Homo sapiens: one gene and its partners. The protein of the gene in region 1 purifies or fractionates together with the protein of each later gene. This does not show direct contact. Each region holds a gene or a part of one and is shown in the gene's direction. Other genes may lie near its edges.

Region 1 (3,768 bases):
GTCTCTGAGAGGTGTATGTTTATCTAGAATTCTACTTTGGACCCCTCTCCGCGCATCCCCAAAGGTCACGTTCCGTTCTGAGTCAGTTTTTTGCTTGATGATAGTAAACTTGCACAAATAGGCTGTTGGTCAGGGAGTGAACTAGCTGGAGCTTGGTCTTCTGCAAGCTTGGTCTTCTGCATGCTTGGTCTTCTGCATGCTTGGTCTTCTGCATGCTTGTTCTTCTGCATGCTTGGTCTTCTGCATGCTTGGTCTTCTGCATGCTTGGTCTTCTGCAAGCTTTGTCTTCTGCATGCTTGGTCTTCTGCATGCTTGGTCTTCTGCATGCTTGGTCTTCTGCATGCTTGGTCTTCTGCATGCTGCAGCTTACCCTTAGCAGATGTTTGGTTTATTGAGTGAGCTGGAGCAGGGGTAGAAACTGACCTTTAATGACCCGGAAGACTGGTTATCTTGTAAAAATAATCCACTAACATCTTGCAGGTGTAATTTCTTGTTTTAAATTTTTCCTCTGTACTTTCTCTTCCAGGTTCTTGCTATGCACTAACATACAATACACATATTGATGAAGATAATACTGTTGCCCTGCTACCAAATGGTAACACTTTATTTTTTCATCTTTCTTTAATTGTTAAAAAAAAATGCATACTGTAAAAAAAAAAAAAAAAAAGTCAGCTGGGCACGGTGGCTCACGCCTGTAATCCCTGCACTTTGGGAGGCCAAAGCAGGTGTATCACCTGAGGTCAGGAGTTCGAGACCAGCCTGGCCAACATGGTGAAACCCTGCCTCTACTAAAAATACAAAAATTAGCCGGCGTGGTGGCTCATGCCTGTAGTCCCAGCTCCTTGGGAGGCTGAGGCAGGAGAATCGCTTTGAACCTGGGAGGCGGAGGTTGCAGTGAGCCAAGATTGCGCCACTGCGCTCCAGCCTGGGAGACAGAATGAGATTGTCTGAAAAAAAAAAAGAAGATATTCAAAAGAATGAGTATACCATGACTTATTTATTTCATCTTTAGTAGAAATTCAGATTATTTTAAATTTCACTATTATAAATAATATCCTTGGATGTATAATGTATAAATAATATCTGTTACAAGACATGTATACACATAAATAATATTCTTGTGATATAAATAAGATCCTTGTATGCAGTTTGTTACATTGATATCTAACTGCTCAATTTGCCTTGCTTTCTTTTAGTCAGACAACGTAAGTTCTAGTTTTGGTATCTTATGGGAGTTATTATTTGATTTATAGGGAAATTAATTTTGTCACTGGATAAAGACACTTATGAAGAAACTGGACTTCAGGGTCATCCATCTCAGTTTTCTGGCAGAAAAATTATGAAATTTAGTAAGTATCATGTGTGTTCCATCTGTTTCTAATCTTCTTGTGGCAATTTAAATTTAAATGTTTGAATTGCCTCTAATCTCTTTGTTCAAAAAAATGTGGCCTTTTAAAAAAAATCTGTCAAACTTCTGACTCGAGCTTCACAGAGGATAGGATGATGCTTTTAAGTTCATTTCTTTTCAGCTGTAGATGCATTTAATAAAGATTGTAGACTTGGACTGGTCAATTAAATATATATGTTTCGGGTTAAACCTTGGCAGGCCAAGGCGGGCGGATCATGAGGTCAAGAGATTGAGACCATTGTGACCAACATGGCGAAACCCCATCTCTGCTAAAAATGCAAAAATTAGCTGGGCGTGGTGGCGCATGCCTGTAGTCCCAGCTACTCAGGAGGCTGAGGCAGGAGAATTGCTTGAACCCGGGAGGGGGAGTTTGCAGTGAGCCAAGATCGCACCACTGCACTTCAGCCTGGCGACAGAGTGAGAGTCCATCTCAAAAAAAAAAAAAAAAAAAAAAAAAATTCCAAGTACTGAACCCAAGATAGGAGTCTACAACTTATTCTTAATAAAGAATTTCCTTTGGTTTCCCCAAGTCTTTATGATTACTAGTAGAAATTCACCCATGAGTGAAGAGATGTTTTGCTGACAGCGTCTGGCTCGAACATCAATAGCTAAGGCCGCCACATCCATAAGTAGATTAAACCTGACCTCTCAAGGTCCTCTGCCCTTGGTCTTTGACCTAGGAAACATATAAATTGAAAATGTCTGTTTTTATTAGCTCTCAAGGTTAGAAGTGCCCACCAAAGGGATCTTATTTATTTGGCAAACCAAAGGGAGTGGAAGAAGAATAAAATAATTTTACTATCCATAAAATTTCCCAAAATTCTAGTTTTTAAAAATGTAACACTTTTTCCATGGTAGAAGCTGTACGTATATGAATGAAATATATGTTCTTTTTTTCATTTTTAAAGTTGTTTCCATTGATTTGATGGAATTATCCTTAAACTTGGATTCTAAGAAGTATGAAAGAATATCTTGGTCTTTCAAAGAAAAGAAGCCATTGAAATTTGATTTTCTTTTGGCTTGGCATAAAACAGGTATGAGGAATAAATTATGTAATGATACAGTGATTTTGAAAGTAATTGTTAATTAAAGAGGAGTAATGGAGGATTGAATGGTGATTCACTCTTTAGTCAAGGAATATTCTATACGTATATATAAAAATATTATTAAGGAAACTAGCCCTTCTGACATCTCTGAAAACCATAGTTCAGGATCATGTAGGCACGCAGGCCTTTCTGCCTGCGTCTCTTTGGGTTATATGTAGATCCAGAGATCTTGAGAGTGGCTTCAGAGCAGCTAAATTTTATCTATTTCTCCCCTTTCCTCTCTCCAGCTTACCTTGAACAGCCTTGACTATAATATTTTTAAGTAGCACCAATTATATACACAATCTGCTTATTTATTATCACAGGGTACTGACTCAGGCCTACCATTAAATGTCAGATGAATTTATTCTAACTTTTAATTGATTAGGACACTAAATTTAGTTCAAAGTTTGCTATTCACCACACAGCGTAATCTGCCTAAAACGGCCATGTATGTTGCTCCTTTTAGAAGTGTATCTTTGACCCAGATAATAATGGATCAAGTCATCAGGAATTATGGTGTAGTACTCTCTTTTGGAGGATAGGAAGCATGGTGGTCTGTTTTAGAAATAGCCCCATCTGTCTGCTCCTCATGGGAAGTGTCTCGTCACTGGGTGCTCCAAGTTGCTCCCATGAGTCCTAGGTCTGGCCTTCGGTGCCTCTCCTTCCATATATGGTAGATAGAAAAGAGGGCAGAAAGGCTTATTGAAGTTTCAGTTGCGTGAAGTCTTCTATGCAGATCATCCAGACGTTGGATTCTGGATAGCTCCCTATTCCTAAAGCTCCTAACTATTTTAAGGATTTGTCAGGACTGTGAAAGTTCTGAGATTTCCTCATACTTGCAGGCTAACTAGGTAGCCTGCTACAGTCTCAGGGATGCTGGCAGAAGACACATAAGCCCTGGGTCAGAGACACAGGACTTAATTCCTCAGAGGAATGGTAGTAGCCAAAATGTATTAGTCAGGGTTCTCCAGAGAGAAAGGACCAATAGGATGGATGGATGGATGGATGGATGGATGAGAGGAGATTTATTAGGGAAATTGATCATGCAGTTATGGAGGCTGAGGAGTCCCACGACAGGCTGTCTGCAAGTGGGAGACCCAGGGATGCTGGTAGCCTGGCTCAGTCCAAATATGAAGGCCTGAGAATCAGGAAAGAAGATGGTATAATTCTCAGTCCAAGGCCAAAGCCTGACAACCTGTGGATCTGCTGGTGCAAGCCCCAGAGTCCAAAGGCTAGAGAACCTGGAGTTCTGCTGTCCAAGGGCAGGGGAAG
Region 2 (3,740 bases), on another chromosome or scaffold:
TTAGTGTCTTCTTTAGTCTCAGAGTGCATTGTAAATGCAAAATTATTAGTCCTCACCTGCAGCAGAGATGTGGCATGCAGCTCCAGGGCAGGAACCCAGGCCTCTCTGAGTAAGACCTACTTTTCTCCCCCTTAGGTTGATGTTCTGTATCACTGAAGCCTGTTTTGAATCTCTGCTGGCCCCCCAGTATCTGCAGAAGAGACCTTATACCCTGTTTTTTTTGGAGACGGAGTCTCACTCCGTCGCCCAGGCTGGATTGCGGTGGCACGATCTTGGCTCCCTGCAACCTCAACCTCCTGGGTTCAAGGGATCTCTTGCCTCAGCCTCCCGAGTAGCTGGGACTACAGGCATGCACCATCACGCCTGGGTAATTTTTGTATTTTTAGTACAGATAGGGTTTCACCACGTTGGCCAGGCTGGCTTCGAACTCCTGAACCTCAGGTGATCCTCCTGTCTTGGCCTTCCAAAGTGCTGGGATTACAGGCATGAGCCACCACGCCAGGCTATTACACCCTTAAAATAGAACCGAGATAACTCCCCACCCTCACCTTGTTTGCACCTGCCCTTCTGACAGTCCAGGGTTTGGGGATATTGGGCTGCAGTTATCAGGAATAACAGTGCAGTGACAGCAGCTTGGATCAAAACTACTCAGAATGATTAAGTAGATCACCTTTATGAAATGTTCCCTCTTTCTTCCCCCTTTTTCCATAGAGGCACACAGGAGGGATTAGCTTTTGGGTTCTTGGAGGATGTTTATGGATACTCACTGCTTGCAGTTGGTTAAGATGGAGTTAGATGCTGCATATAGCCTTTCAAAATGCCCTTTGACCGTTTTCTGTGTTGGTCCATTTAGGGGAGTGGGCTCTTCATGTTTATGAAGATGGTTGGAATATTGTCCTGATAACAACTGGGGGTTGGGAGAGGCAGTGTCTCAGAGATGGTTAATAGGGTAACAAACACATGATCATGTGTCTGGTCATGTCACACTCTCCTTAAAAATCTGATGGCCCCAACATTGCCTGCATATTAAAGTTCAAACAAATATGACCCATGAGGTCAGTGTGTTGAATTTATTGAATAGAATCTTGTAGTTGAGGGACCTTACAGTCATTTAGACCAGCCACCTGGCTGACATTTGAGTTGGTTACTTGTTGAGATTGTCTTTCTTTGGATACCTCATTTTTGGAAAGTTTTTCATTCACTGAAGAATTAATGAGCCTCTGTTAGACCTGGTGCTACGCTTAGGGATTTGGGTTTGTATAGCGTAGTGGGAAAGATAGGCAAGGAAACAGGCAGTGTGAGAAGTGTTGTCACAGGGACAGACACCAGGAGAGCACAGAAAAATGATGCCTAACCCAGCATTGGAAGGTCAGGGAAGGCTTTTTAGGAGGAGAAGTTGGTTAAGCCTAGCCCTCAAGAGAACAGACATAAGCCAGGAAAAGAAGAGATCTGGGGAGTCAGGGAAGAGGCAGAGATAAGACTGTTCTAGGTAGAAGGAACAGTAAGTTCAGAAATGGTGATAATAGGTTAAGACCATCCCGAAAGTACGTACTGTTACTATTCCCATTCTGTAGTTGAAGGAAACGGGCCAAGAGAGCTAAACAAATTTCTCAGGATTCTTGGGTGGAGCATAATGCTTGAGGTGGGTGGATATGGCCAGACAGGAGACTTTCAAGGTAGGCAGAGCAGAGGCCAAGTCAGGAAAGGGCCTTCTTGCCTGTGTTGAGGAGTTTGGACTTCATCCGGAGGTGAGGGGGCCATGATTCAATGTGCATTTTGGAAGGATATCTCTGGCTGCCTGTTCAGGAGCGGACTGGAGAGCTAGAACACTGTGGGCAGAGAGACCAGTTAGGAGGTTGGCAAGAGGTGATGGTGTTTCAAATGAAGGTTGTGGGAGAGCGTGTGCAAGAGTGTGTGCAGAAAAAAGATGGAATTGCTGGGCGTGGTGGCTCACGTTTGTAGTCCTAGCACTTTGGGAGGCTGAGGTGGGTGGATCACCTGAGGTCAGGAGTTTGAGACTAGCCTGGCCAACGTGGTGAAACCCCGTCTCTACTAAAAATAAAAAAAAAATTAGTCGGGTGTGGTGGCAGGCACCTGTAATCCCAGCTATGTGGGAGGCTAAGGCAGGAGAATCACTTGAACCTGGGAGGTGGAGGTTGCAGTGAGCTGAGATCGAACCACTGCACTCCAGCCTGGGTGTGAGACTCCATCTCAAAAAAAAAAAAAAAAAAGGAAAGAAAAAAGGTGGAATTGAGTGATGAGACAAAGATTATTGGTGTGGAGGGTAAGGAAGGAATCGGGATGACATCTGGTTTCTACCTGGTGCAGTTTTGTAAATGGGTGCTGTTTATTGAGGTGAGGACACAGGAGAAGAAGGAGCACGTAAGGGAGGGGGTAGGGTTTCTTATGCAGGGTCTCCTTACATATGCTTTCACTTACCTCTGGTTATGGATTCTAGTTCTTTGTGTCAGGTCTGAAAGGGAGAGAGTGAGAGTATGGCACAACTGGTCATGTTCCTGGCTAAACTGGATGATGCAAACATTAGTTTAGGAAGAGAGGAGATATTCAATCCTAGACATCCGGGTGTGGCACAGCCTGGAAACTGCTTACGTTAAGCCAAGAAAAGTTTACATTTTATCCAGGCTACATCCTTTGGCACTGGTCTTTTCGTGTACTAGTGTATTCCTAAGTCCCTCTCTAAGCCGAAGCCACTTCTCTGCTTACTCTCTGCTAGGCACTGGGAAAACAAAGATAAGTAAAACGTATCCTAAGGAGCTCATGATCCAGAAGGGCAGAAGTCTCAGTAGCTTGGATACAGCGGTGGCCTGGGGAGAGGGTGGATGGGGCAGGGCAGGGTAGGACAGGATGGAGAGGGACCCGGAAGGGTTTCTATTAGGGATAGGAGTCAGGAGACCCCACTGTGTGCTCCAGTCTTTTTCTCGGGTGGCACGTGTCTAGGTTTATTCATCTGAATAATGACTAGATGACCCATAAGGTCCCTTCTAGCAATTACATTTTATGATTCTAGGTGGTGGTTTAGATAATATATCTCTAGGAGAGGTATTTCTTTCTTCTTCTCCCCCTTCTTAGTTTGGCATTGGTGAGGGGATATAGTAGGGGTGGAGATAGCAAGGTTTTCACTTGAGTGTCTTGGTCTTATTCAATTTTGGCTTCATGTCTATATAGCTGGAAGGGAGAAAATGACAGCCGTAATGTTAACCTGCTTGTCCTACAACTTCCCCCTGGGTACTGTAAGGAAATTGTGCTCAGGGTGCAGCTCACAGACCCTTAGGAATAGAGACAGAGTGCAGTGGAATAAATAGGAAGTCTTGTCACTAGCCTGAGCATCGTTTGGTCAGTGTGTGGGCTGGACTAAGGTCCTTTCTTTTTATAGCCCTGTTTCCTCATAAAATCATCTGGGGGGGTCCCTGAAATTCTATAAAGGCCCAAAGAGTGGGGGTGGGGAGGTAGGGACAGAAAAAGGGTTGGAGGTCCCTGTCTCTCTCACTTCTCCCCTCTCTTCGAACGAATAAGTAGAAGCAGGTATCTGGCCAAGTATTAATGTTGGTCATCTTTTGTTTCCACAGCCTTGCCTTATTTCCTCAGTGTTAGTGTCTTCTGTCATTTCATAATGGCTTTCATGGTAATCAATGTCCTGTACCTCCTGGGAGGAAGGAAGGAAAGATGGGATATTGTCCCTGGGCTCTAGTCTCCATCTCCAGAAGAGCCATTTAAGACAT
Region 3 (2,442 bases), on another chromosome or scaffold:
AGATTAATACCATACAGTCACTAGAAGGTTAATTATGAACAAGTAGAAACAGAATATTTTTAATAAATGAAATAGACAAATGGAATTGTACTATGATTGCAATAATTAAAACTTTCACATATTGCTTGTATAGGAATAAAGACAAAGTCATATAAAAAAATGGGGAAAATTAAACACTACTCACCCATAGTCCTGAGTATTTTAAAGAGCCTTCGTAGAGCATTCAAAATCGGGTAAGAAAAATGGGGAAAAATAAAATTACTTAATCTTTAAAAGGAAGACAAGCGTATGCTCACCTAATTGGACTTATATAATCAGGCTTGCTCTAGCTTATCCAGAATCAGAGTACAGGCCGGGCGCAGTGGCTCATGCCTGTAATCCCAGCACTTTGGGAGGCCGAGGTGGGTGGATCACCTGAGGTCAGGAGTTTGAGACCAGCCTGGGCAACATGGTGAAACCCTGTCTCTACTAAAAAAAAATAGAAACATTAGCTGGGCTTGGTGGCGGGCGCCTGTAATCCCAGCTACTCGGGAGGCTGAGGCAGGAGAATCGCTTGAACCCAGGAGGTGGAGGTTGCAGTGAGCTGAGATTGTGCCACTGCACTCCAGCCTGGGCAACAAGAGTGAAATTCTGTCTCAAAAAATAAATACATAAATAAATAAGAATCAGAGAGTACAGTCAAGATATTCTTAAGTCATGCAGTTGTCGCTAACATGAATTTTTTCTGTTGTCATTTTGCTTCTTGGAAGGATTTTCAAAATGGCTGCAGCTCCTCAAGCACCGGGGCGGGGATCTCTCCGTAAGACGAGACCTCTGGTTGTGAAGACGTCGTTGAACAACCCATACATCATCCGCTGGAGCGCTCTGGAGAGCGAGGATATGCACTTCATCCTACAGACGCTTGAGGACAGGCTTAAAGCTATTGGACTTCAGAAGATTGAAGATAAGAAGAAAAAGAACAAAACACCTTTTCTGAAAAAAGAAAGCAGAGAGAAATGCAGCATTGCTGTTGATATTAGTGAGAATCTGAAGGAGAAGAAAACAGATGCTAAGCAGCAAGTGTCAGGGTGGACGCCTGCACACGTCAGGAAGCAGCTTGCCATTGGCGTTAACGAAGTTACCAGAGCCCTGGAAAGGAGGGAACTGCTGTTAGTTCTGGTGTGTAAATCAGTCAAGCCTGCCATGATCACCTCACACTTGATTCAGTTAAGCCTAAGCAGAAGTGTCCCTGCCTGTCAGGTCCCCCGGCTCAGTGAGAGAATCGCCCCCGTCATTGGCTTAAAATGTGTTCTAGCCTTGGCGTTCAAAAAGAACACCACTGACTTTGTGGACGAAGTAAGAGCCATCATCCCCAGAGTCCCCAGTTTAAGTGTACCATGGCTTCAAGACAGAATTGAAGATTCTGGGGAAAATTTAGAGACTGAACCTCTGGAAAGCCAAGACAGAGAGCTTTTGGACACTTCATTTGAAGATCTGTCAAAACCTAAGAGAAAGCTTGCTGACGGTCGGCAGGCTTCTGTAACATTACAACCCCTTAAAATAAAGAAACTGATTCCAAACCCTAATAAGATAAGGAAACCACCCAAAAGTAAAAAAGCTACTCCAAAGTAATCTTGCATAAACTTGTCATGTCATACAGTTTGTGAAAGGACACCTTGTAAAGAAGCCTTGAAACTAATAAAATGAGTTATACTTACATAGATTCATAGGGTCCTGTTTGGTAATATTCAAATGTGTAAGACTCTTTGTAACTATGGCACAGATATACTAAGTGCAGGAAATATTCAAAATTAGGAATAGCCAAACAGACATTTATTGAAACTAGTGTTCATGCGTGTGTAAATTGACTTTTTCTTTTTCTTTTTTTTTTTTTTGAGACAGTTTCACTCTTGTTGTCCAGGCTGGAGTGCAATGGTGCGGTCTCAGCTCACTGCAACCTCCTCCTCACGGGTTCAAGCAATTCTCCTGCCTCAGCTTCCCAAGTATCTGGGACTACAGGTGCGCACCACCATGCCTAGCTAAGTTTTGTATTTTTAGTAGACACGGGGTTTTACCATGTTGGCCAGGATGGTTTCCGTCTCTTGACCTCGTGATTTGCCCACGTCAGCCTCCCAAAGTGCTAGGATTACAGCTGCGAGCCACCGTGCCTGGCCTTTTTTTTTTTTTTTTTGAGACAGAGTTTCGTTCTGTCGCCAAGGCAGGAGTGCAGCGGCGCAATCTCGGCTCACTGCACCCTCCACCACCCAGATTCAACGATTCTCCTGTCTCAGCCGCCTGAGTAGCTGGGATTGCAGGTGCCCACCACCACACCCAGCTCATTTTTTTGTATTTTTAGTAGAGATGGGGTTTCACCATGTTGGTCAGGCTGGTCTCGAACTGACCTCGTGATCCACCTGCCTTGTCCTCCCAAAGTGCTGAGATGACAGACGTGAGCAGCCGCGT
Region 4 (3,516 bases), on another chromosome or scaffold:
GAGCACTGAGTGAACGAGACTCTGTCTGCCCTGATTTCCTTTTTTGAACTGACTTAGTACTGTGCATAAAAGCAAACTCCCAAGTTACTCTTTTTTTTTTTATTTAAAGAGATGGGTGGCCTACTCTTGCCCAGGTTGAAGTACAGTGGTATGATCATAGCTCACTACAGCCTCCAGCTGCTGGGCTTAAGCAATCCTCCTGCCTTAGCCTCCTGAGTAGCTGGGATTACAGGCATGCACCACCATGCCTAGCTAATCATCTTATTCCTTCCTTAAAGGAAAGATTTTAAGAACAAAATTATATGGCGTGAATTTATTGATGATAATTCCAGTTGTATAATTAGCTTTATAAGGGAGTTTTGTGAGAATATTTGAGGAAATCCAGATAGAATGGGTTTTAATTAGGAATTGTATTTATTCTTATGACCTTTTGGAAATTCATTTCTTTTTCAGGGACAAGAATCCTTCAAGAAACAGGAAAAAACTCCTAAAACACCAAAAGGACCTAGTTCTGTAGAAGACATTAAAGCAAAAATGCAAGCAAGTATAGAAAAAGTGAGTAAAGTTATCTTAAAAAAACTTTGTCTCCCCCCTCAAATTGCACGTGTCTGGTTTGCATAGACTTGAATGTTTCTTGTTTTTTTGTTTGTTTTGGTTTAATATACTTGCCTGGTTCGTGGTATGAATTTTTTCAAAAATTTCTTATAAAACATTTATAATCGTGTCTGTGGTGATTTTTGCATATGCAAAATTAAATATGCCTTATTTTCCATTATGCAAGGAACGTAGTGCACTGGTTGCAAGATAACATTCTGACCTTCCATGTTAAAATAGATCAGTGAAAACCCTTTGCCTATTCTGGTTGTAAGATATGCTAGAGAACCAACAGAGGGCGTATGAGACTTCATTAAAATTACAAACAGCTGGAAAAGTAGATGCTGGCTGTTGCTTGGTATTATAGTTAATATTCATGATTGACCCTAGTCAGAAGTGATTTTCAGCAGATTGAGACATTTCTCTTTGCCCTTTACACCAAGTTGTCACCAGTTAATACATGTAGTAATAGCTAGATTTCGTGAATGACTAATAGGCTTAAATCTAGTTTCCTTTTGTCTTAAATAATGGAAATGTGGGAAGAGGGTTAGGTCTCTCATCTGCTTGACTGGGGGATTTGAGTAGGATATGGAATAAATGGTTTAAATGCCTTGGAAGCACATTTGAGAGAAGCTTTAATTCTATGAATAATACTTTTAGACTCCAACTATTGAGAGCAAATGTGGGGTGGTGAAAAATTGCCAACTCATTTCCCCATGTTTTTCTTGTAATCTATAGATTTTTCGTGGCTTCAGTAGATTCCTTGTACAGTGATAAGTCCACTGGAAAAAGAATTTTAGAACTGGAACATATTTCTTTTAGTCACACTGTAAACCCTTTAGCCTTCCTGGTTATCACTGATTTTTGTCCCTTGGATACAATGCTAAAATGACATCTTTTAGATGCCCCTCCCCTCCATTTTAATATGGTCCTATCTCCTTGGTTTAATTGCAGGCGCATTGAACAGTCCTGGGCACTACATGTAAATTAAGCCCAAAGATGGGGAGAAAGGAAAAGGAGAGACAAATATAGTCCATACTGAGTGTCATCAACAATCCAGACTGAAGTCTTCTATTTTAATCTCAATCCCCTTTTCTGATTTGCCACCCATGCCTCTTCAGGCTGGAAACAATCTCTTGGTTCCCTAAAGCACTTTCTTCTGACTGCTGTGATTCAGTGAACCTTGCCCTTTGCTTTCTATTACTTGTGCATTTGCCTCACCTGACAATGTTTTAAATCGCCTTTGTATCTCCTTAGCTGCTCAATAAATATTTGAATGCATCAATTAAGAATGTATGTGACAATAATTTTGAAATGGAAATTGTGAGGTTTATTTTACTAGGTTATTGGAGGCAGTTAAGTTTCTTAATGCTATACCTGATTCTGCCAAAGTCCCTTGGACATTTGAAAACCTTTTCAATCTTTTAAAAATGCATAAAAGATACTTAGAGGGAAAGGTATTAATTAAATTTAGTAAAAACAAATATATTCAATGCTTTAAATTCCAAAGTAGTGATAAATACAAACATTTCAAGATATTTGCAATAGTAATGTTTTGAAATTTTGGTTACAAAGTCACAGGTCTTGCCAATACTGTTGTAGTTTCTTGCCTATATCCGTAATTTGAAGGAAATGGTGAGAGTGATTAGAGAAGTGTAATTACTGTAATTTTTTCCCCTATTGTAGTTTCTTGCCTGTATCCATAATTTGAAGGAAATGGTAAGAGTGATTAGTGAAATGTAATTACTGTAATTTTTTCCCCATTCAACTTTATATATCTTTAACTGATGACCAGATCATTGTTGTTCTGAACCAGTTTGTGGTCAGCAAGTGTTTTGTGGGGTTTTGTTTGTTTGTTTTTAAAGAACAGTTTGGGTCACTTGACATGGTTCTCCAAAGGGATGTTATGGGTTGTATTTGGTTCTGGGTGATAACCGACTTGTTAGATAATTTAGATAAGCAACCGAGTTGCCATGTTTGTTTGTCGAATCTCAAGTGTAGCTTATATTTTATGTTCCTAGAGAGGTTGTCAGGGAAGATTTGACCCTTTGGCAAATCTGTTTGAATAGAGATACTAGCCATGCTGCCCAATAGGGCTTTCTGGCCCTGAAAAAGATACGGAGTATTCTTGGAAAGTTGAAGGGAAAAAGAATAAACTGATCCATGTAGTAGCATGCAGATTATTGAGGAATTTTCTAAAGGTATCTCTCTCGGTGTATTTCTCTACTTACCTGTAATAATGCTTTTGTCTTAATAGGGTGGTTCTCTTCCCAAAGTGGAAGCCAAATTCATCAATTATGTGAAGAATTGCTTCCGGATGACTGACCAAGAGGTAACTGGATTTTCTGGGGACATGATTAAATCCAAGTTTTTTTGTGATTTATTATGATTCTGCCTTTACCCTTTTTAAGTGTTGGCTCTTTTTAAAAAGTTCCTAACCACAGATAATATTTCATTTAATGAAATACCTGAAAACTCATGTATTTAATGAAATGCATGAAGAATACAGTTGGCAGTCTGAGATGATAACTTTAGTATATTTTTCCCAGATTTCCTATAGTTGGTAAATTATTTCTTGGTTATTGAATTCAGTTTTACTTTTTTGGTACTATGTTGGTTAAGGAAATTGCTGTGGTTTTCCTTGCTGTTCCATTTGACTGCTTGGGGCAGTCTGGTCTTGGCTTTTTTGGGAGTTGGTAGAGATCTTTTTTTTTTTTTTCCTAGATCTTATGGGAAATACATTATGCCAAAATCATCCTAACATGAAATCTGGAAGCAAGACACTAAATTGTGGCTACTACCAGATACATAAGCTTGAGTTAGCTGTTAGATTTTACAGTTAGTACATGTGAAAGTCTTAGTCAACATAAAGATTATGCATTTATTTTTGCTCTTATTTACAGTTGACTCATAAGTGTAAGG

What was found.
Region 2: the proteins of RPP40 (region 1) and RALY fractionate together in Homo sapiens (co-fractionation; one large-scale study listed by BioGRID). This does not show direct contact.
Region 3: the proteins of RPP40 (region 1) and RPP38 fractionate together in Homo sapiens (co-fractionation; one large-scale study listed by BioGRID). This does not show direct contact.
Region 4: the proteins of RPP40 (region 1) and NPM1 purify together in Homo sapiens (affinity purification with mass spectrometry; 4 studies listed by BioGRID and IntAct, with this or other methods). This does not show direct contact.

The regions. Positions count from the first base shown.
Region 1 is NC_000006.12:4,997,390-5,001,157, reverse strand, and holds part of RPP40 (ribonuclease P protein subunit p40), read left to right. Parts: intron 1-526; coding exon 527-595; intron 596-1,253; coding exon 1,254-1,349; intron 1,350-2,316; coding exon 2,317-2,442; intron 2,443-3,768. UniProt on the Homo sapiens protein: Component of ribonuclease P, a ribonucleoprotein complex that generates mature tRNA molecules by cleaving their 5'-ends. Also a component of the MRP ribonuclease complex, which cleaves pre-rRNA sequences.
Region 2 is NC_000020.11:33,996,911-34,000,650, forward strand, and holds part of RALY (RNA-binding protein Raly), read left to right. Parts: intron 1-3,740. UniProt on the Homo sapiens protein: RNA-binding protein that acts as a transcriptional cofactor for cholesterol biosynthetic genes in the liver. Binds the lipid-responsive non-coding RNA LeXis and is required for LeXis-mediated effect on cholesterogenesis.
Region 3 is NC_000010.11:15,102,556-15,104,997, forward strand, and holds the end of RPP38 (ribonuclease P protein subunit p38), read left to right. Parts: intron 1-749; 5' UTR 750-759; coding exon 760-1,611; 3' UTR 1,612-1,702; downstream 1,703-2,442. UniProt on the Homo sapiens protein: Component of ribonuclease P, a ribonucleoprotein complex that generates mature tRNA molecules by cleaving their 5'-ends. Also a component of the MRP ribonuclease complex, which cleaves pre-rRNA sequences.
Region 4 is NC_000005.10:171,404,849-171,408,364, forward strand, and holds part of NPM1 (nucleophosmin), read left to right. Parts: intron 1-453; coding exon 454-555; intron 556-1,548; coding exon of another isoform or gene 1,549-1,557; exon of another isoform or gene 1,558-2,277; intron 2,278-2,851; coding exon 2,852-2,926; intron 2,927-3,516. UniProt on the Homo sapiens protein: Involved in diverse cellular processes such as ribosome biogenesis, centrosome duplication, protein chaperoning, histone assembly, cell proliferation, and regulation of tumor suppressors p53/TP53 and ARF.